Linked DNA regions of Homo sapiens: region 2 is linked to region 1. Evidence: fine-mapped QTL for protein levels in blood plasma. A gene starts in region 1. The other region holds a variant in brackets. All regions are shown on one strand. Distances are between the middles of the regions. Region 1 holds the start of GPC1 (glypican 1). Region 2 overlaps GPC1 (glypican 1).

Region 1 (11,775 bases):
AGCAGGATGTCCATAGGGCAGAGGTCCTGTGGCTGTGCCTGGCCCTGACCCAAATCTACTGTCCTCACCTGGCTGACAACCCTGCCCTCACAGGCTGCAATCACTCTGCTCATGTGACACTTACTCAGGAAGCCCTGCACCTGCCTGAGAGTCACCTCGCCTCCCTAAAATGAGGCCCAGAGGCCAGGTGTCTAAGCCTCCCTTGGCCGCCCTCCCTGGGCCGCAGCCCCAGGTCTGGGGAGCACTTTGGCCTGAGGCCCTCTGGAAGGGCAGGGCTTCCCTCTGTCACCTTCTCAGGATGCCTTTGCCAGACTTTCGTTGAAGGTAGGGGACCAAGGCCAGGTGGGCTGGTCAACGCCACCTTTAGGGAGGGGCCTCGCCACCACTAGTGCCTGCCCACTCCCCAGCACGGGTGGGCCAGCCAGAGCTGACCCGATGTGGCTGAGCTTGGCTGTAGGTGTGACCCATGGGCCAGGCCATGGTTGCAGGGTGTGGTCAGGGCCTCTCCTCCTCCCTGGTCCTCAGCCGTTGTCTACGGCTTCAGCCTCTCCTCCTCCCAAGTCCTCGGCTGTGTCTTGTTCCAGCCCCCCTCCTCCTTCCCTCCCTGGACACTCCCACTGTGTCCAGGAGGGCCCTGCAGCTGCCTTCACCTCTGGTTGTGCCGGTGGCTGCAGGGCAAATAAAACCAACCCTTCCCCCATCCCCCTCCCCAGGGACCAGGCAGCCTGTCCCTGTCCCCAGAAGAGGCCTTGCACCACCCCTTCCCTCCCACAGGCCTCAGGGGCTCCCTTGCCCTTCAGCCGTCCAACGCTCAGGACACCTGTCCCCTGCCACCTAGCGGGGCATTACTATTGCACAGAGAAACAGACACTCGGATGCGGCAGTTTCGCCTCCTCAGGAAAATAGGATTCCCAGAGAGGACCAGCAGGCCAGGGAGGCTACAGTCCTCCCTCAGCTGCACCATGCAGGTGCCTCTCTCGCCTGTGACTCAGCCTCACCTGCCAAGGTTGCAAGACCCTGCTCGGTGGGCCCTGGCAAGGCCTCCCCCTTAGGAGACGGCTCTTCCACTGAGCCCCTGGATTCCCTCCCACCCAGCGCAGGCCGGCGGCACACAGGGCAGGCCACTGTGAGCACTCTGGCTGCTCTAGGCCCTGACACAGTACAGGCCTGTGTCCTCCGCAGCCAGGTGTGCAGGCCCCCAACCCCCCCCACCCCCAGCCCATGGCTTGCCAGCCAGGGCCATGGAAGCCACAGCCACCTCCCCACATGCAGGCTGGTGGCTCCTGCCCAGGAGGACAGATGCCTGCTGTCTTGTTCTCTGGTCTTCCAGAGAAAAGGTTGGCTGAAGAGGGTGCCCCGGCCATGTTCCTGTCACCAACTGGACAACTCCCCTCAAAGGGCCTTGAGCATCCCAGGACACCCTCCCCAGGAGCAGGGAAGGTTGGGAGTGTGGCGTGGACAGTGCCACCCTTCCAGGCCAGCATGGTCCAGAGGCAAACCCTTACCTGCAGAGCAGCTCAGAGGATGCCTCCAGTTGGCCTCACCCTGGAAACGGCTCTTTGCTTTGGGGACCAAGCAAGCTCTTCAGACAAGCCTGCAGAAGGGCAGTGGGAGGCGGGACAGGGCCACAGTCCGACCCCCTCAGACCTTAGGAGCCTCATCTACAGGGAAATGAAACCCTTCAACTCCAGACCTCTGGAGCTGAAGGCAACTTTAGGCCTTCCCTAAGCTTAGGGGAAGGTTTGAGGTGACCCTGGAATCTGAATGGGGAGGGGAAGAACGTTCAGCTTCCTGGACCCCTTGAGAGGAGGGGGAGGCTCAGGGGCTCCTGCACTGTGGCTGAGGGCAGCTGCATTCTGATCTTCAGAGTCCTTGCAGGCTTCGGATTGAAGCTGGTTTTCAAATGATCAGCCAGGCAGTATGGACTGCAGGAGGAATAGGTCAAAAGCCAGCAATGGTCCAGAAGGGGAGAGGTGGAGGGAAGGGCAGGAGCCACACACAGAGCAGACAGGACCTGGCAGGAAAGCCATGAGCTGCTGGTGCTGGGGACACCAAAGCGTGCACGTGGGTCTCTGAGCTCCAGGTGTGTGGGGTGCTTTGTCCTAACATAGCAGACAGTGCCGGAGTGCCCCCATCTGCTCCCTCTCCTCAAGGAGACCAGGCCAAGAGTCAGGGTGGGGAGGGGCAGGAAAACAGCCACAGGGAAGGCCAAACCCAGCTCAGCCCAGAGTGGAGTGTTTGGGGTCATCTCTTGCTACCAGGGTCCTCAGACTAGAGAAACAGGTGCCAGCTCTTGGAGGGGCCACAGGTGCATTCTTCTGACCCCACCTACCACACGGGTGACCCAGCCTCACTGAAAAGGCTTGCTCTCCTCTGACCTGGATAAGGGAGGCCAGCCCAGACTTCTGCTGATCAAAAGGACCCAGCAGAGCAGAGCAGGCTCCAAACAGCTTCACCTTCAAGTTGACTGCCCCACGGCAGGGGCTTGGAGAGAGGTGGAGGGAGGTGCAGGTATGACCTCCTTTGAGAATAATGGTGCCAGGTTTTCTCAGTCCTGCAAACTCTGCCCAGCTGGCGCCCTTGTCCACCCACCCTCACTGCCCAGTGGCAGCCCCTAAGTTGGGGAAGCCAGGGCAGCCCTAGGGTTCAGACTCAAAGCCGAACTCCTGTAGATTAGGGTCCTGGCTCAGGGCTGGAAGACCTTCCAGGGTACCACTGAGTGTCCAGGCAGAGCAGGGACCAGCACCCCACCTCACAGACCCCACACGAGTACAATCCTGCAGGGTCGTCTGGAGCCGAGCTCCTTCATGAGATGACAGCGGCTCCCTGAGCCAGCACCAGAATGAGAGACCGGATGAATGTTCCCCAAGTGTCACCACCAAAAGGCAGGGCAGGAAGCACGGGGTGAGCTGGAGGTGGAGTCCATGGGCCAGAGCAGGCCCTGGGGCAGATCCCCTCCCCATCGCTAAGCCCTGTAGAGCTGCCCAGAGCCCCGCTTCTTTCTGGCAGGCACCCTGATTACCATTTGCAGAAAGATCTCCAGCTCTGCAGGCAGGCTGTCCTGCCCACCCTGCTCTGCCCAGGGCTGCCAGCCACTCCTGGGGACCATGTTCCCTTCATCAGCCACATGCTGGGGTATCCACTTCCTCCTTCAGGCTGCTGCCCAAGGGGTCCCCAGACCCCCACAGAGGTGTGGGGACCCTACATCCTCCACTATGCCCCAGGGCACCAAAACACCTCCTGGGTGCTCTAACAGATCAGATGCCACATCCCAGCCAGCCCTAGTCCACGCCCTTGAACCCCTGCTGTCTGCAGGCACACGCGCGCACTCCTGCCTCCCACGGCCAGTAGGACAGGGCTCTCGTAGGTAGGGATGCTACAGGCAGTGACATTCACAAGAAGGCAGCCATGGATGGCAGCGACAACAATCGCTCAGTCTGTTTGGAAACTTACTTTTGGAGTCTCCGAAAGACAATCCCTGAAACCAAACAGAAAGGGAAGCTGTCCGTCCATGGCAGCGGGCAAGGGCGTGCACACTCACGAGGGTTCCACGGAGCAAAAGTAGGATAATTTCTGGGCAGACCTGCCGTCCGAACGGCTGGGAGCTGCGGGCCCCCCGGCGCTCCCTGTGTCTTCTGAGCAGAGACCAGGCTCAGCATCCCGCAGACCCCCACCCTCCCTAGGCAGAGGCAGGAGTGGGCCCTAAGCCAGCAGTACACGCCCTCCAGGACCTGGGGTCCTCCACAGAAGATGGGGGCATGGAAGGGAGGCCCCCACGCCCTGGCCCAACAGGCACTGCCTGCCTCAGCCCGTCAGACAATGCTAAGTGTCCTCTGCCCTCACTGCACCTGTGGAAGAGCAGGTCCAGGCTGCGCCACACGCCCACTCTCAGGGACAAACTTTTCCTCTCAGGTGTTTCCTCACTTGCTCATTCATTCCTTCTTTGTGTCGCATACGTGTGCCCCCACTGTCTAGCCAGGCAAAGACACCAAAGCAGGAGGGGGTGGTCTTGGTCAGAGCCACAAGGGTCACTGTGGTGGCTGGGATTCGAGGCATCAACTATGTCCTCAAACCCATCCACGTGTCCTGTGTGGAGCGGCCCCAGGGACAGCGGTGGAAGAGGGGGCTGATCAGCCTTGCCCATCCTCCCAGAGTCCCAGTCTGGACCCTGCACCCGACTAGCACGGGCAGCCTGGCGGCTCCTGCCCTGGTGACAGCGGGCGTGTGCAGCATTGCCAGGAGGGAAGCAGGGGTAGCTGCAGCTGCTCAGGATCCTGCGGCTCCTCCCAGGTGCAAACACGGCTTTTGCTTCCAATGCCCCCGGCGGCATGTGCATCCTCTCCAGGGAAGGCCCTGGCTACAGGTCTCCTGGCCTGCGGAATGGGAATGATTCCAGGACCTGCGATGGTGGTAAGGACTTCCTTAGGAGATGAAGCCACCCAGGGGTCACCAGGGCCAGGCAGAGGCTGCCACCATCGCGTTCTAAGCCCTGCTGTCCACACTGCCATCCAGAGGCCCAGAACTAGGCTGGAGGAAGGACTTGCCTGGAGGAATAACCCAACCTGGTCAGATTAAGAGGAGGCGTAGACAGTGACGGGGTAACTATAGAGCCTCAGGCCGGGTTAACCTCAAGTCCAGCTTCCTAGGCCCAGGCAGCCCTGCCTGATCCCGCAGTGCGTGAGACCACACAGAGAGAGAGCGGGATCGTGGGCCCAGGCTCCTGACCGTGCTGGATAAGGTGTGCAGGCAGCCACGCCAGGCCCAGGCAAGAAGGAGCAAGCCTGGAGCATGTACTGAACAGGGGTCTGTGAGTCACAAAATGTGACGCAGCAGAGGGTATGTGGGGGAGGGCAGGGAAATGCACACTTGGATTGGGTCCCCAAAGCCTCCCTCTCCAGCAATGACTCAGTGTCTCTGGGTGAAGGAGCAACCTTCTCTGGGAGGCAGGGCAGGAAACCCCAAGAGCCCAGGGGGAGGGCACCCCACCTTCCTGCTCCAGCCCCACACAGCGGCTGAGAGCCCCAGGCACAGAAGGGGTAGGGAATGTTGCCACCACCCCCACCACGGACCCCGCTGCAGCTTCCAGGTGATGCCACAGGCCCTGAAATCAGGACACCCTTGCTGTACATGGGGGTCATCTTGAGGTTCTCTGCCAAGGATACTGACCTCTATGCCTGCCCCCAATTCTGCAGCTCAGGCACCTGGCTTCACCGCCAGGCCTTACCATGTGGAGAACAGGGGGCCGGGGTGGGGGGTCTGGGAGCCAAGGAAGGAGTGAAGCCCTCCAGACACCAACATCGCAGTCCTCGCCCCCTCCCTACAGACCCCATCCAGCCCAACTCCCCATGTGCAGCTAAAGCCACGCGCCCTCCTACCATACAAGGTGCAGGCAGCCCTCCCGCCTTCTTCAAAGAGGCATCTGCTCCGGCTCACTCCACCCTCCTCCCCCAGTGGCCTAACTAGTCGCCGGGTTCCAACCCTATCCCTTCTCCAGAGGTCATCTGGCCCCACCCAGCAGCCCAAACCAGTAGACCGGCCCTGCCCCATCACTTTGGTTTCTCCAGCATCCAAAGAACGTGGAGGGTCACCCCCCCAAAACAGCTGTCAAGGTCCAACAATTAAGCCATCTGTTGCCGCTCCCTGGGACTGGGAGAGGTGAGGTCGAGTTTCTTGGCGAGTTTCCTGCGTGCAGCCCCCACACCACAAAAGCCCCCGGTGCGAGCCGGAGCCCAGCGCGAGACGGCTGGAAGGGCGCGGGGAGGGAGCCGCTGCGGGGTGCAGGCGGGGAGAGGGGCGGCGGCTCGAGGCGCGGCCGGCGGGCGGAGGGTACGGAGGCGCCGGGAGAGCGTTCTCGGGGCGCGCTGCCAGGGTGCAGGAAGCCGGAGCGCGCGGGAGGGAGCGGGGAGCGGGATGCCGATTTCGGCTGGGGGCGGGGAGGCCCCTGATTGGGGCGCGGGAGGCGTGATGTCACGTCCGGCGGGGGAAGCCCTGCCTCGCGCACCCTCCGCCCCCGTCCCCGCCCCCACAGGTGGTGCCACCGCCCTGGGCGCTGGGCGTGGGGGGCCGCCCTCGGGGACCCCGGCCGCGGCCCCGCGCTGCCCGGCTCCGCCGCCTCCCGCCGGGGATCGATAGAGTCGCGCGGCCAGGCGGGCCCTCTGGGTCCCTAAGAGCCAGAGGAGCGCCCAGTGCGCCCCGGCCCGCGCCCCCGCGCCGCGCCCCGCCCCGCCCCGCCCGGTGCTCCCAGTCCCTCCCCCACCCCTGCGCTCCCACCCTGCCCCGCCCCTCTCCTCTCCCGCGGCCGCCTAGGGGCCGGGCCGGCGGCGGGGGAGGCGCCGAGCCGGGACTGCGCTAGCCCGCCGCGCTCTGGGCTGCCCGAGCGAGCGTTCGGACCTCGCACCCCGCGCGCCCCGCGCCGCCGCCGCCGCCGGCTTTTGTTGTCTCCGCCTCCTCGGCCGCCGCCGCCTCTGGACCGCGAGCCGCGCGCGCCGGGACCTTGGCTCTGCCCTTCGCGGGCGGGAACTGCGCAGGACCCGGCCAGGATCCGAGAGAGGCGCGGGCGGGTGGCCGGGGGCGCCGCCGGCCCCGCCATGGAGCTCCGGGCCCGAGGCTGGTGGCTGCTATGTGCGGCCGCAGCGCTGGTCGCCTGCGCCCGCGGGGACCCGGCCAGCAAGAGCCGGAGCTGCGGCGAGGTCCGCCAGATCTACGGAGCCAAGGGCTTCAGCCTGAGCGACGTGCCCCAGGCGGAGATCTCGGGTGAGTGAGGGCGCGGCGCCGGGAACCCGGGCCTGGCCGGGCTTTGGGCTCCGGACCCTGGTCTTCCCGACGCGGCTACTCGCCCCCGGCGCGGGATCCTGCCGCCTGCGCCCCGCCGCCCGGGCCCCGAATGGCTCCCTGCGCTGCGGCTCCTCTGCAACCCCACGGCCCTCGCCTCCAAGCCCCGCGCCGCACTCCCTCGCCAGGGTCTCCTCCGCCCCGCTCGGTCGTCCTCCGCCCCTCCCCGCCCCCCGCACGCCGGCTTCTTCCCTGCGGAGCTGATCTCGCCGGGCTGCGGGCTCGGGGCGCTCCTCCCGGGCCACGGCTGGAGCTGGGCGTCTTCTGCCCGCCGCTCGGCCCAGCGCGCCTGCAGGCCGGGAGTCCCAGCCCCGGGGCCGGCTGTCGGGGCGCTGTGGGGCTCGGCGTGGCCGGGCTTTCGGGGCGCCGCTGACGGTGGCCGCGGACCCCTTCTGCTCTGTACAGACCTCTCTGGGAGGCGTCTCCGGTCCTGCCCGGGGATTCTCGTAGGGTCTCCAGCAAAGGCAGCCTAGGTGGGTTTTATAAGCTGACCCCCTCGGGGGGTAGTGCGGAGGGGTGGGGAGGGAGCTGGGCACTTATCCGCGGGCGGAACGCCGCCGCCTCGTAGAGATTCCTGTCGAAGAACTTGTACGCGCCGGCCCCCGCCTGGCGCTTGGGCAGCCTCGTGCCGCGAGTCCAGCTGCAGGTGGTCGGCGCGTTGGATCCCGCCCAGGGGCCGTGTCATTTCTTTGTAAGAACAGCGGCCCTCTTGGCGCCCCCTAAGCCCTGCAGCCGCCTGCGGCTCTGCCTCTTCCCTCCCTGTGGTCCCGGAGGAGCTTTGGGGACAGAAGTGTACGGGTGGGTGGAACGGTGGGCTCCGTGTGCTAAGGAACTCTTGGAACCCAAGCTTCACCTTTCCACGTGTGGGAACCAACCTCGGTCTGTACCGCGTGCCAGGGACCCAGTGGGCAAGAACAAAACAGACTAGGTTCCTGCTCTGGGGGGCTCCTCTGAAACCAGGGGAGTGGGAGTGCGGGTGGAGGGCTACTCAGATGGGGACTCAGCGCAGAAATGCCCATGGTCCTGGGGATTCTGAGCAAGAAGGATCCGTGCATCTGGGTGAGGGGGGTCTGTGGCCATGCCTTGCCGCGGGGGGCGGAGTGGTGGGAGGAGGCAGTCGGGCTCTGGACCCCTGCCCCTCCAGGAGGAACAGAACCCACAGACAGCCCCTTGCCCTTGGTGGATCTCCCGATGCCCCCAGCCTGAGGTTCTTGTAAGGGCCCCCTGACCGCCCCCCACAGAAGGAACAGAACCCGCAGACAGTCCCTTGGCGGATCTCCCGATGCCCTCCCCACCAGCCTGAGGTTCTTGCAAGGACCCCTCCAAAGTCCCCAGGACAGGCCTTCCTGTGCCTCTGCAGAGGCAACCCTGTCATTTCCAGGCTGCCCCCCTCACCCCACTGGGCTCTGTCTGTCCCAGGTAGGGGGCACACCTGGATGCCAGGCAGCACAAGGCCCTCGGCACAGTTGGGTTCGTTCTCTGCCCCTCTACTCACACATAAAGAGGCATCCCTGGCCTTCCTGGTGAATCCCTCCCCAGGCACCAGGGTAGCAGAGTGGCTGAGTGGCTGCCCCTCCCAGCCCAGAGTCTTGAACCCTGCTCCTTTGGAAACCATTAGCCCCCAGCCCTTCTTAGCACCTCCATGTCCTCTGGGCAGTTGCATCCTTAGGAGCCAACCTAACCTTCCTTGCATCCACAGGCCACTGTTGCCAGTTAGAGAGACAGAGTGGCAGAGTTTGGCCATCTCCCAAGGGTGAGAAGAGAGGGCAGGACAAGATGGAGAAGTTGATGTGGGGCTGGGCCAGAGAGTGTGGGTCGTGCTGCTCTTGGGTTGGGGAATGCAGTGGGTTAGGGACCCAGGACAGGCAGATTGTGTTGATTTCTCTGTGTCTGATGGGGCAGGGGATGCTGTCCACCCCGCGTGGGGAGTACGAACGCCCTGCAGCTGTCTAACCACGGTGCCAGCCATGGGCCAGTGCCTGCTGCCAGGGCTCGGGGTGCCACCCTCCTCCAGACTTGCAAGGCCAGGACTGCACTGGGCAGGATTACTGCCTCTCCAGTCGGTGCCCCTCCGACAGGAACCTCTCTCCCTGCACCCCCTATGGCTGCAGAAGTGGGGAGTAACCTTCGGGACCCAGGGTACAGAAGACAGTGTGGGAGCCACGTGGGCTGAGGGAAACAGGGTGACTCCCTCGGGTCGCAGCAGTCCTGGGGCAGCCAAGCCCAGTGTCCCCTCCTGCTTTGTCGGCTGGGCCTGGGCTCCGTGGAACGGGCGCCCTCTGGTGGCCCCTGGGCGGCAGATCCTCCCAGGAGCCCTGGACCCTCTGTGGCCTAGTAGGCACCATTCTCAGTCCCCTCTCTCCTGCATCCAGACTTCTCCAGGGGGACCTCCTCAGAGGGAATGCGAACCCCCTGGGGTTGGGCACCTCGCTGGCCCGGAGCAGGTGGGGTAGAGATCTGATACTTCCTCGTGGGAAGGAGAGCAGTTGGCCCTGGGTGTGTGGCGGGCCTTCCCAGCCTCTGCCCCAGGGACCAGAAAAGGCAGTGGGTGACAGGAGACTTAGCTCATGAAAGAGGGCAGTGTCGGGACATATTGGGCTCCCTTTTGAGACTTCCTTTGTCCTCTGGACAGCCAGGCCAGGCTGCAGTGACAGCAGTGGTCATCCCATTTTATGGGCAAGGAAGCAGGCCTGGGTGCCACCAGCTGGACGGTGGCACTGCAGCAGGGCACCCGGCCACCCTCCCTTTATGCCAGGGCACGGCACAGAAGGCAAGGGCGGAGCCGAGTGGCACCCCGGGTGCCCCTGCGCTGCCAGGAGCCCTCATGCTGAATCACTGCCCGCGTGCCAGCAGGCCTCCTGCTTTTGCTTGCAAGGTTGTGTCTGGGCATAGGTGTTCCCAGAGCACCTGTCTGGCCTCCTGATGTCTGATGTGATGTGATGTGTGTCTGTTTGCTCCTTTGCTGGGGTCTCAGCGCCCCACCTTGGCACCTGAGCTCCCTGGTCGCTGGGACCACCTCTAACTGTTTCCCTGTTGTAGCCACAGAACCCGGCTGGCTCCCGGCCCAGGATAGCTTCTCGGAGGACACCCCCAGGCCTTCCTGGCTTTATACCTGGCTGTGCTGGGTGGGGAGCGGGACATGGAGGGTAGAGGAGGGTCTCCTTGGAGCAGACACCCCTGTTCTCAGGGTCTCCCAGCCTGAGGCAGAGGAGGGGCCCTAAGGTCTAGTTTTGGGGGCAGAAGTCAGAGTGGGGCATGGGACTGTCGGTGGCACAGAAACTGCCCAGCCGCTCCTGTGCCCAGAGTGGCAGCCCGCCTACCAGCTGGAGCGGGCACCAGCGTGCCCTGGAGCCTGTACCAAGCACCCACTCGTTGGGCCCCTCCGAAGGAATCTTTTCTTCTCTGTGCCACTTTTGACCGCCTGGGTGGTTGGCACACAGACTCTGGGGAACCATCCTCAGAGGGCCTGGACCTCTCCTTCCCACATCCCTGAAAGGGTGTTTCCGGCTGGGCCCGGGAGAGCCCACCAGCATCTGCTTCTCAGTCCTGCTCAGCGGGCCTCTCGGAGGCTGCCTGGCACACAGCCCCTCACCAGACCAGACAGTTCCCTGTGCCCTGTCCTGTCCAGGTGGCTCAGCGTGGTTCCCAGGTGGTCCTCAGCCTTTGCTGTGTCGCTGCTCTTCCCTCCATGAGAGGAGCTCATCATCCCCAGCGTGAGGACCGAGCGGAGCCCAGGGGAGCCCTGATCCGACAGGGCCACCTGCGTGATGCAATGGCCTGGGTCCCTGCTGGACCGCCAAGCCTCCCATGCCAGGCAGGCCACAGCACTCCTCAGGCACAGATGCCCCCACCCCCATCCCATCCCCGGTGTCCCCGGGCCTTTTCACAGGAGAGAAAGGGAATAATCGTGACCTCCTGTGAAGGTGGCCAGGAGGGAGAAGGTGCTGGGGCTGTGCACCTCGTGGGCAGCCTCGGGCTGTGTCCCCCCTCTCCCCGGACACCCTCTGCAAAGGCCCACACACACCCCTCTCAGTTAATGGCATCCGGTACCCTAAGAGCACTCATGAACCCGGGTGCTCTTAGAACACGGGGAAACCCGGCTTGTGGAGCGTTTCCCATGACTGTCTGGTTAACACATCAGACGGAAGGGGTCTTTGTAGACCTGTTTTACAAATGAGTAAACCGAAGCCTGGTGAAGCGCTCCTCTTAGGGCCAGATCTGGCTACAGCATTGACCACTGCCCAGTAAAGCCAGGCCAGGCTGCTTGTCCCAGGCTCTGCACTTCTTGGAAGGCTCGTGCTTTTCCCAGCCCGCTCTCCTGTCCTGGGCCTGGGCTCCATCTCTTAGGCTCATTTAGAACGTTTAACCGGGACTCCTCCTGGCCTCCCTGCCTCCGGTCCTGCCCAGCTCCTCCTGGCCTCCCTGCCTCCGGTCCTGCCCAGCTCCTCCTGGCCTCCCTGCCTCCGGTCCTGCCCAGCTCCTCCTGGCCTCCCTGCCTCCGGTCCTGCCCAGCTCCTCCTGGCCTCCCTGCCTCCGGTCCTGCCCAGCTCCTCCTGGCCTCCCTGCCTCCGGTCCTGCCCAGCTCCTCCTGGCCTCCCTGCCTCCGGTCCTGCCCAGCTCCTCCTGGCCTCCCTGCCTCCGGTCTTGCCCAGCTCCTCCTGGCCGTGCCGCCCAGAGAGTCGTACTTCCACACAGCTGGGCCTCACCCTCCGGCCTGGCTCCACTGCCTGTGGGGGGCAGGACTGCTAGGAGGGCTGTTCCCAGCGTGTGCCACGAAGCCCTGCATGTCCCCAACAGGGCAGACCAGCCACCCACACTGGGCCAAGTGCCCCAGGATTAGTGGACAGGTACCCTATTCAGGTGCCCACAGGTGCCAAGCCAGGGAGATAAGGCAGTCCAGTCTGTTGGGGCTTGTACCTTCACACCAGCAATCTCTAGGGACAG
Region 2 (8,346 bases), 34 kb after region 1:
GAGGGGCCCCACTACCCCCCAAGGACCCTGCAGTGTCTCTCCAGGTCATCCAGGGCTGCGGGAACCCCAAGGTCAACCCCCAGGGCCCCGGGCCTGAGGAGAAGCGGCGCCGGGGCAAGCTGGCCCCGCGGGAGAGGCCACCTTCAGGCACGCTGGAGAAGCTGGTGAGTGGCCCCTGCGTGTCCACTGGACCAGGCATGAGGGAGGCAGACAGGCAGAGGCGGGCGGGCCCTGGCAGCCCAGTGGCCTGACTGCTGCCCCACAGGTCTCCGAAGCCAAGGCCCAGCTCCGCGACGTCCAGGACTTCTGGATCAGCCTCCCAGGGACACTGTGCAGTGAGAAGATGGCCCTGAGCACTGCCAGTGATGACCGCTGCTGGAACGGGATGGCCAGAGGCCGGTAGGTGCCCACCTGGCTGGCACAGCCCTCCCTCCCATGCCGCCTCCATTGGGCTGTGCCTGGGCCAGGTGCTGTCTGCACGGGGCCACGTCCCTTGCTGGAGGGCTTGAGCCCCACTTCTCTGCGGCCTGTGTGGGCTCTGCTCGGTCCCTGGAAGCTGCTGGGCATCTCAGGCTCAGAGCGTGGGAGAGTGTCCTGCTCAGGTGATGGCCCTTTGCAGGGGCTGGAGCAGTGACCTGGGCTCTGCCTGCCTTTCCCCCAGGTACCTCCCCGAGGTCATGGGTGACGGCCTGGCCAACCAGATCAACAACCCCGAGGTGGAGGTGGACATCACCAAGCCGGACATGACCATCCGGCAGCAGATCATGCAGCTGAAGATCATGACCAACCGGCTGCGCAGCGCCTACAACGGCAACGACGTGGACTTCCAGGACGCCAGTGAGGGCAGGGCCTGGCCGGGCGGCCAAGGGGCCAGGGTTGGTGGGGGTGCCACAGGGGTGTGACTGCCCTCCGGGTTCCCCCACCCGAGGGGCCCTCTGCTCCGGCATCACCACAGTGAGTCTGAGGACGCTGTGCTGCCCAGGCACGATCACCGAGCCCTGCACCTCTGCGGCGCCCTGGAGGCCTGGCCGGGATGTCTGTTGGCTTTGGCTCCAGGGACCAAGGGAGGCAGCCCCAGGGAGTGAGAGTCTCCCAGCCTCAGGGGTCAGCGGGGATCAGGTGCTGCTGGTCCTGGGATTCCACACCGAAAGGATGTTGGGGTCACCTGGCACGGGCCCTTACAGGGTGGTGCTGCACTGGGGTCTCCTGTGGGGACCTGCCTGCCGGAGCCTCCTCTCCTTCCCAGGTGACGACGGCAGCGGCTCGGGCAGCGGTGATGGCTGTCTGGATGACCTCTGCAGCCGGAAGGTCAGCAGGAAGAGCTCCAGCTCCCGGACGCCCTTGACCCATGCCCTCCCAGGCCTGTCAGAGCAGGAAGGACAGAAGACCTCGGCTGCCAGCTGCCCCCAGCCCCCGACCTTCCTCCTGCCCCTCCTCCTCTTCCTGGCCCTTACAGTAGCCAGGCCCCGGTGGCGGTAACTGCCCCAAGGCCCCAGGGACAGAGGCCAAGGACTGACTTTGCCAAAAATACAACACAGACGATATTTAATTCACCTCAGCCTGGAGAGGCCTGGGGTGGGACAGGGAGGGCCGGCGGCTCTGAGCAGGGGCAGGCGCAGAGGTCCCAGCCCCAGGCCTGGCCTCGCCTGCCTTTCTGCCTTTTAATTTTGTATGAGGTCCTCAGGTCAGCTGGGAGCCAGTGTGCCCAAAAGCCATGTATTTCAGGGACCTCAGGGGCACCTCCGGCTGCCTAGCCCTCCCCCCAGCTCCCTGCACCGCCGCAGAAGCAGCCCCTCGAGGCCTACAGAGGAGGCCTCAAAGCAACCCGCTGGAGCCCACAGCGAGCCTGTGCCTTCCTCCCCGCCTCCTCCCACTGGGACTCCCAGCAGAGCCCACCAGCCAGCCCTGGCCCACCCCCCAGCCTCCAGAGAAGCCCCGCACGGGCTGTCTGGGTGTCCGCCATCCAGGGTCTGGCAGAGCCTCTGAGATGATGCATGATGCCCTCCCCTCAGCGCAGGCTGCAGAGCCCGGCCCCACCTCCCTGCGCCCTTGAGGGGCCCCAGCGTCTGCAGGGTGACGCCTGAGACAGCACCACTGCTGAGGAGTCTGAGGACTGTCCTCCCACAGACCTGCAGTGAGGGGCCCTCCATGCGCAGATGAGGGGCCACTGACCCACCTGCGCTTCTGCTGGAGGAGGGGAAGCTGGGCCCAAAGGCCCAGGGAGGCAGCGTGGGCTCTGCCAATGTGGGCTGCCCCTCGCACACAGGGCTCACAGGGCAGGCCTTGCTGGGGTCCAGGGCTGTTGGAGGACCCCGAGGGCTGAGGAGCAGCCAGGACCCGCCTGCTCCCATCCTCACCCAGATCAGGAACCAGGGCCTCCCTGTTCACGGTGACACAGGTCAGGGCTCAGAGTGACCCTCAGCTGTCACCTGCTCACAGGGATGCTGGTGGCTGGTGAGACCCCGCACTGCAGACGGGAATGCCTAGGTCCCTTCCCGACCCAGCCAGCTGCAGGGCACGGGGACCTGGATAGTTAAGGGCTTTTCCAAACATGCATCCATTTACTGACACTTCCTGTCCTTGTTCATGGAGAGCTGTTCGCTCCTCCCAGATGGCTTCGGAGGGCCGCAGGGCCCACCTTGGACCCTGGTGACCTCCTGTCACTCACTGAGGCCATCAGGGCCCTGCCCCAGGCCTGGACGGGCCCTCCTTCCCTCCTGTGCCCCAGCTGCCAGGCGGCCCTGGGGAGGGGTGGTGTGGTGTTGGGAAGGGGTCCTGCAGGGGGAGGAGGACTTGGAGGGTCTGGGGGCAGCTGTCCTGAACCGACTGACCCTGAGGAGGCCGCTTAGTGCTGCTTTGCTTTTCATCACCGTCCCGCACAGTGGACGGAGGTCCCCGGTTGCTGGTCAGGTCCCCATGGCTTGTTCTCTGGAACCTGACTTTAGATGTTTTGGGATCAGGAGCCCCCAACACAGGCAAGTCCACCCCATAATAACCCTGCCAGTGCCAGGGTGGGCTGGGGACTCTGGCACAGTGATGCCGGGCGCCAGGACAGCAGCACTCCCGCTGCACACAGACGGCCTAGGGGTGGCGCTCAGACCCCACCCTACGCTCATCTCTGGAAGGGGCAGCCCTGAGTGGTCACTGGTCAGGGCAGTGGCCAAGCCTGCTGTGTCCTTCCTCCACAAGGTCCCCCCACCGCTCAGTGTCAG[C/T]GGGTGACGTGTGTTCTTTTGAGTCCTTGTATGAATAAAAGGCTGGAAACCTACAGCAGGGCGAGGCCTCGGGGGGAGAGAGAATGTGTGCGTATGTGTGTGTGTGTCTGTCTGTCTGGGGCTTGGGCATGGACCACACTTCCGTGTTTGGGGTGAACGTGCAGCCCCTGCCAGCTGCGCCCTTCAGCCTGTCTGCAGCTCCACCTTGCCCTGGACAGACTCCGGTCTGTCCGCCCCTCTCCTTGGTGCAGGGGAGAAGGAAAAGGCCAGGGCACGGAGACCCAGATGGCCTCCAGCAGGCCCCACCTCCCATCTACCTCTTCCTGCCTCCTGCCCCTGCTCTGGGCACACACAGCACAGAGATCCTCTACCCCTGGAAGGTTCTGGTTCCTGCCAGGTGGCCTCAGAGATGCCCAAGGGGCTAGAGAGAAGGAACCAGCATTGTCCCAAGGATGCCCTGGTGGTCCAGTTTGTCCCCAGCCACCTTTCTCTCGAGGCGGAGGGTCCTGTATAACCCTAGGGGCTCCCTATAGCCCCGCTCCTGTTCCTGTGGGGTCATGGCCAGAGGCTAAGTGGCACGGCGGCACTGGCAGAAGCGCCCACTGTTCTGGGTGTGTCCCTCAACTGCTTTATTGAGAATTGCAGCCAGTACAGGTTGGTCTGGTGAACATTTTTAACATTGCGTTTCCATCATCTGGGACCCAGGAATAGAGGGCCCCCTAGCAACTGGGACCTCCAGGCCCCTTGTGAGCGTGAGAGCACAGAGGGGTGGGTGGGCACCCCAGGAGGGAGATGCAGCTCCACCCAGCCCTGCTGAACTCCACTGCTTAGTAGGTCCCAGCTCCGGGCAGGACGAAGGGCTGCACACAGGCCTCCCACAAAGCATCTGCAGCCGCCAGGTCCCTGGTAGCCACGGTCCTCACTTGCAGGCCCCTCCGCAAGTCCCAGAGGCCCGGCTCCTCCCCTGGGAAATGAGGGTGGGGTGGAGTCCTCTCCGTGGCGGGCCAGGGGATGCAGCCTGGGGGCTCAGCGGGGCCCCTAGGGGACAGGTGAGCAGCCAGACACTCATCAGCGGCTGTAGTTGTGGACAACGCATTTGGTCCAGCCGGCAGGATCTCAGGCTTCCAGGCACCACCTTGCCCAGCTGCTTCAAGACTTCCACAAGCCCTTTTTGAACCTGGGCAAATGCATCTTTCATGTCAGGGAAAGGAGGACACAGGTGCGTGTGCACTCTGTGCAGAGCCGACACCACGCCAGGAGTGGGTGGGCAGGGGCACCCGGCTGGTCTCAGCCCTGCCTTCCCGGCCACACCTCAGACCACCAGGGAGCTCCCAAGTTCTGCCCACCCTAGTGCTGCCCCAAGAGGCTGCTCAGGGAGAGACCCCTTCCAGCCAGGGCTGGCTCTCAGTCCCTCTCGGTTCCTCACAGGAATTCCAGAAGCCACAGACAAACTGACCCACCCACACTGATGGGCAGAGAGCAGCCCCTCAGTCAGCCTCCCTTGAGCAGCTCAGCCCAGCCGTGGTGGGTGGCCCCAGCGTCTCCCACACCATCTGCAGGCAGCCCCGGCAGGCCAGCATGGGTGTCTGCTCCACACGAACATACACCCATCACACGGTGCACACACATGCACATGTGCACTCCACATTTACACACACAAACGAACACATACAACACCCTGTACATGCACACACAAGCACACATATCCATACACGTGCACACACTTCTGCACATGCACGTCCTCACATGCCCACATGCCCATGCACATGTGCACACTCCTACACATGTACACACATGCACACACATAGGTATGAACACGTACAATGCCCTGTGCATACACACACAAGCACACATATCCATACACGTGCACACACATCCTCCTGCACATGCATGCACTCACATGTACACATGCCCATACACATGCATGCACATGTGCACAGGCCTATGCACGTGCACACATGTAGACAGGTACACATGCCCATACACACATGCACACATTACATACATGCACAGTATACACGCATGCACTCACACAGAGACAGACACACCCGTGGGTGCACACACTGCTCCTGTCCAGGTGACCCTAAGTATTCTTTATCTGGGGACAAGGCCCTCTGTCGAGAAACACCATTTATAATCGCAGTGCTCCCTTGAGTTTGGGACAGACGACTAACTCCCACCTCTCAGTCCACCTTCCTCCTGCCCTAAGCCACTACTGAAATCATGGAAGGACCATAACTGGGCGTCCATCTCTCCAACAGACAGCATGTGTCACAGCCATCAAAGAAGTGGGTAGAGTCTAGGGAAGGTGGGATTCTGAGAGACCCCAACAAGGCCACCACAGCTTTCCTGAGGGGAAAGCACACAGGCTTCACAGACGCCAGGGCTGTGGATGAGCCGGAGGCAGTCACTGCCCAGCAAGCTCTCCCCGTGTGCACAGCAGCCCCTCCCAGATGAGACCACCCCACAAAGCAAAACCAGTGAGTCTAAACATTTCCCTCCTTCTTTCATATGGCCTGGAAATATGAACAGGAACCCTCATGGTTTCTAGCACAAACCCATGTTTACACTCAATCTGGGAAAGCACAAAAAAAGAGCCAGTAAAAAACTCATAGGAGACGTCAAAATATGCAGCATCGGCCTGGGAAGTCAGACCAAGCGTCCTGATGTGAGAATTAAAAGAAACAGGAGGAAACACTGGGAAATGTTGACTTTGAAAAGATCACAGCAACACAGTAGACTCAGCTAAAATAACCCCCTCTCCTCACAGACACGTTGAAATTCTGGAAAAAGTCAGTTTCGCAAAGTTAATACCTATCTGAGGTCACAGGAGAGCTAAAAACCTCATGTGCTGAAAAGAAAAACAAAGTGAGAGGCTTCAATGAATGGGAAGTGGGGAGAGTGGTGTATCAGGCACAGAAATACCCTCTCAGGATAGAAGCTTGGGGTGAGGGGTACCCACAGACCTGGGTGAGGGCTGGGAGCTGGAACTGGAACCCCAGGTGACCTGGAAACCGCAAAGAAACGAAGTTCTCCCTATTGCCAGAGATGGGCCAGGGAAGCTTTTGCTGCCTAGGGATCTGGGCAGGAAAAAAAAAATCCTCCTTTTTGAAGAATCAGTGGCTGGTGACAAAAGATAATGAGTAAATACAAAAGTACCTAGAGGGTTTGTCCACAGTGAGGAAGTGAGATTCCCTCAGAGAAATCACAACGCCTCAGGGACAGGAACTCAAATTCTTTTTTTTTTTTTTTTTGAGACAGAGTATCTGTCTGTCACCAGGCTGGAGTGCAGTGGTGTGATCTCAGCTCACTGCGACCTCTGCCTCCCGGGTTCAAGCGATTCTCCTGCCTCAGCCTCCCAAGTAGCTGAGATTACAAGATTCTTTAAAATTTCAAAATGAAAAAATAAAATAAAATCTGCCACCAGAGCCAGCAGCACCCTGAGAACTTTAGATGACAGAGCAAACTGAAATGGTCTATAAAATAAGTATTTTGTGTTATCAAAGCGAAAAGGGGGAGAAATAGAAACCATAAGGATAGAACAATTCCATTTTTAAAAAGAAAAAACAAGGAGATTGGAAAAAGTACCAAGTGGAAGTAATGTCAGCAAGATGGCAGAACAGGGGACCCCCTGCTTTTAGCCACCCATTGCAACAAGAATTTGGCAGCCATCCACACACAAAAGTGCCTTCGTGGGAGCCTCAGGACTCTGGTAGGAGGCTGGGAAATCCTGATGGAGCCCAACTGAGAAGGGCTGTTTTAAGAGGGCAGGTTTGCACCCAGGTTGCAGCTCGCCAAATGGGGTCCTTTGCAGATCCAGAAATGGCCTCATCCCCCTATGGACTCAATGGCAGCCTTGTTTGGCTCTCCTGACACAGGAACCATCTGCCCAGGGATCTCCTGGAAGATACCCCAGTCCATCCCCCCTGAAGGCAGGCCCACCAACCTTGGTTCCACTGCAGATCCCGAAATAGCCCTGTAAGTCAGCTCCAACCCCTCAGCTGCAGTCTGAAAGCAGTCCTGCCTTCCCAAGGACGTGCTGGGAGACACTCGTCTGAGTTAGGCCACAAAATCCCAAAAGAAGTGTTGAAATGGTTCTGAGTTTACTCCATCCTTCCCCAGTCACAGTCCTGGAGCGGTCCTGCCCACCCAGGGATACTGAGACAAGCCCAGCTGTACGCTGGGAGGCAGGCCTACCAATCCACGGCCGCACGCGGGGAGGCAGGCCTACCAATCTACGGCCGCACGCGGGGAGGCAGGCCTACCAATCTACAACTGCACAGGCTGAAGGAGCCCTGTGACCCAGCTCCAGCCCCACTCTGCCATGGTCTGAAGGCAGTCCTGCCCTCCCCAAGAACCTGACAGGAGGCATGCCCATCTGTGCCCCCAAAGGCAGGCCTACAGACCTCAGTCTCAGCTGTGAGCCTTAAACCAGCCTTGTGACTTGGTTTCATCTCCTTTTAACCACAGTCTGGGGTCAGTCCTGCCTGTCAGGGACTCACGCAGTGACTGAGTGCACCCTTGTCCCAGAGCTAGCCCTGTTCCTCAAGGTCTTAGAGGCAGTCCAGTCTGCCCAGGGACCAGACATGTTCAATGCCTGCTCCTTCCCTGAATAGACTCACCAACCACAAACCCCACTGTAGACTCAGCAGCAGCCATGTGACTAAACTAATCCTGGAGGCAACCCTTCAGAGACCCAACAGATCTTTATCTGCCAAAAATCAGTCTGTAAAGGCTGAAAGAGGTGTTTGCTGCTTCAAATTGAGACACCAATGCAAGGCTCTATGAATAATAAAGAATCAGGCCAACATGATGCCACAGCTGGGCATGGTGGCTCATGCCTGTCATCCCAGCACTTTGGGAGGCTGAGGCAGGTAGGTTGCTTGAGGTCAGGAGTTCGAGACCAGCCTGGCCAACACGGTGAAACCTCGTCTCTACTAAAAATATAAAAATTAACCAGACATGGTGGTGCATGCTTGTAATCCCACTACTCAGGAGGCTGAGGTGGGAGAATCTCTTGAACCCGGGAGACGGAGGCTGCAGTGAGCTGAGATTGTGCCACTGTACTCCAGCCTGGGCGACAAGAGTGAAACTCTGTCTAAAAAAAAAAAAAAAACAAAAAAAACCACCAAAA

The links. PIP is the chance, under the fine-mapping model, that this variant and not a neighbour inherited with it causes the effect. The UK Biobank Pharma Proteomics Project read protein levels with antibody pairs (Olink). The fine-mapping took linkage between variants from a reference panel, not from the people measured, so its PIPs are less certain.
Region 2: its variant is fine-mapped to the plasma level of the GPC1 protein (UK Biobank, PIP above 0.99).

Annotation. Positions count from the first base shown.
Region 1 is chr2:240,429,332-240,441,106 of GRCh38, forward strand. GPC1 (glypican 1) reads left to right here and starts at 6,332. Exons shown (of 9, transcript NM_002081.3): 1 at 6,332-6,753. The coding sequence starts at 6,588. RefSeq lists enhancers at 4,701-4,995, 5,395-5,971, 7,705-8,281, 8,333-8,834 and silencers at 5,801-6,460, 6,521-6,580.
Region 2 is chr2:240,464,812-240,473,157 of GRCh38, forward strand. GPC1 (glypican 1) reads left to right here. Exons shown (of 9, transcript NM_002081.3): 6 at 45-164; 7 at 266-399; 8 at 662-837; 9 at 1,247-3,265. The coding sequence ends at 1,479. It also overlaps a transcript of ANKMY1 not described here. Among named protein-coding and RNA genes, the nearest start is that of GPC1-AS1, 12 kb to the left of the region's middle. The variant C/T (reference allele first, on the strand shown) is at 3,213.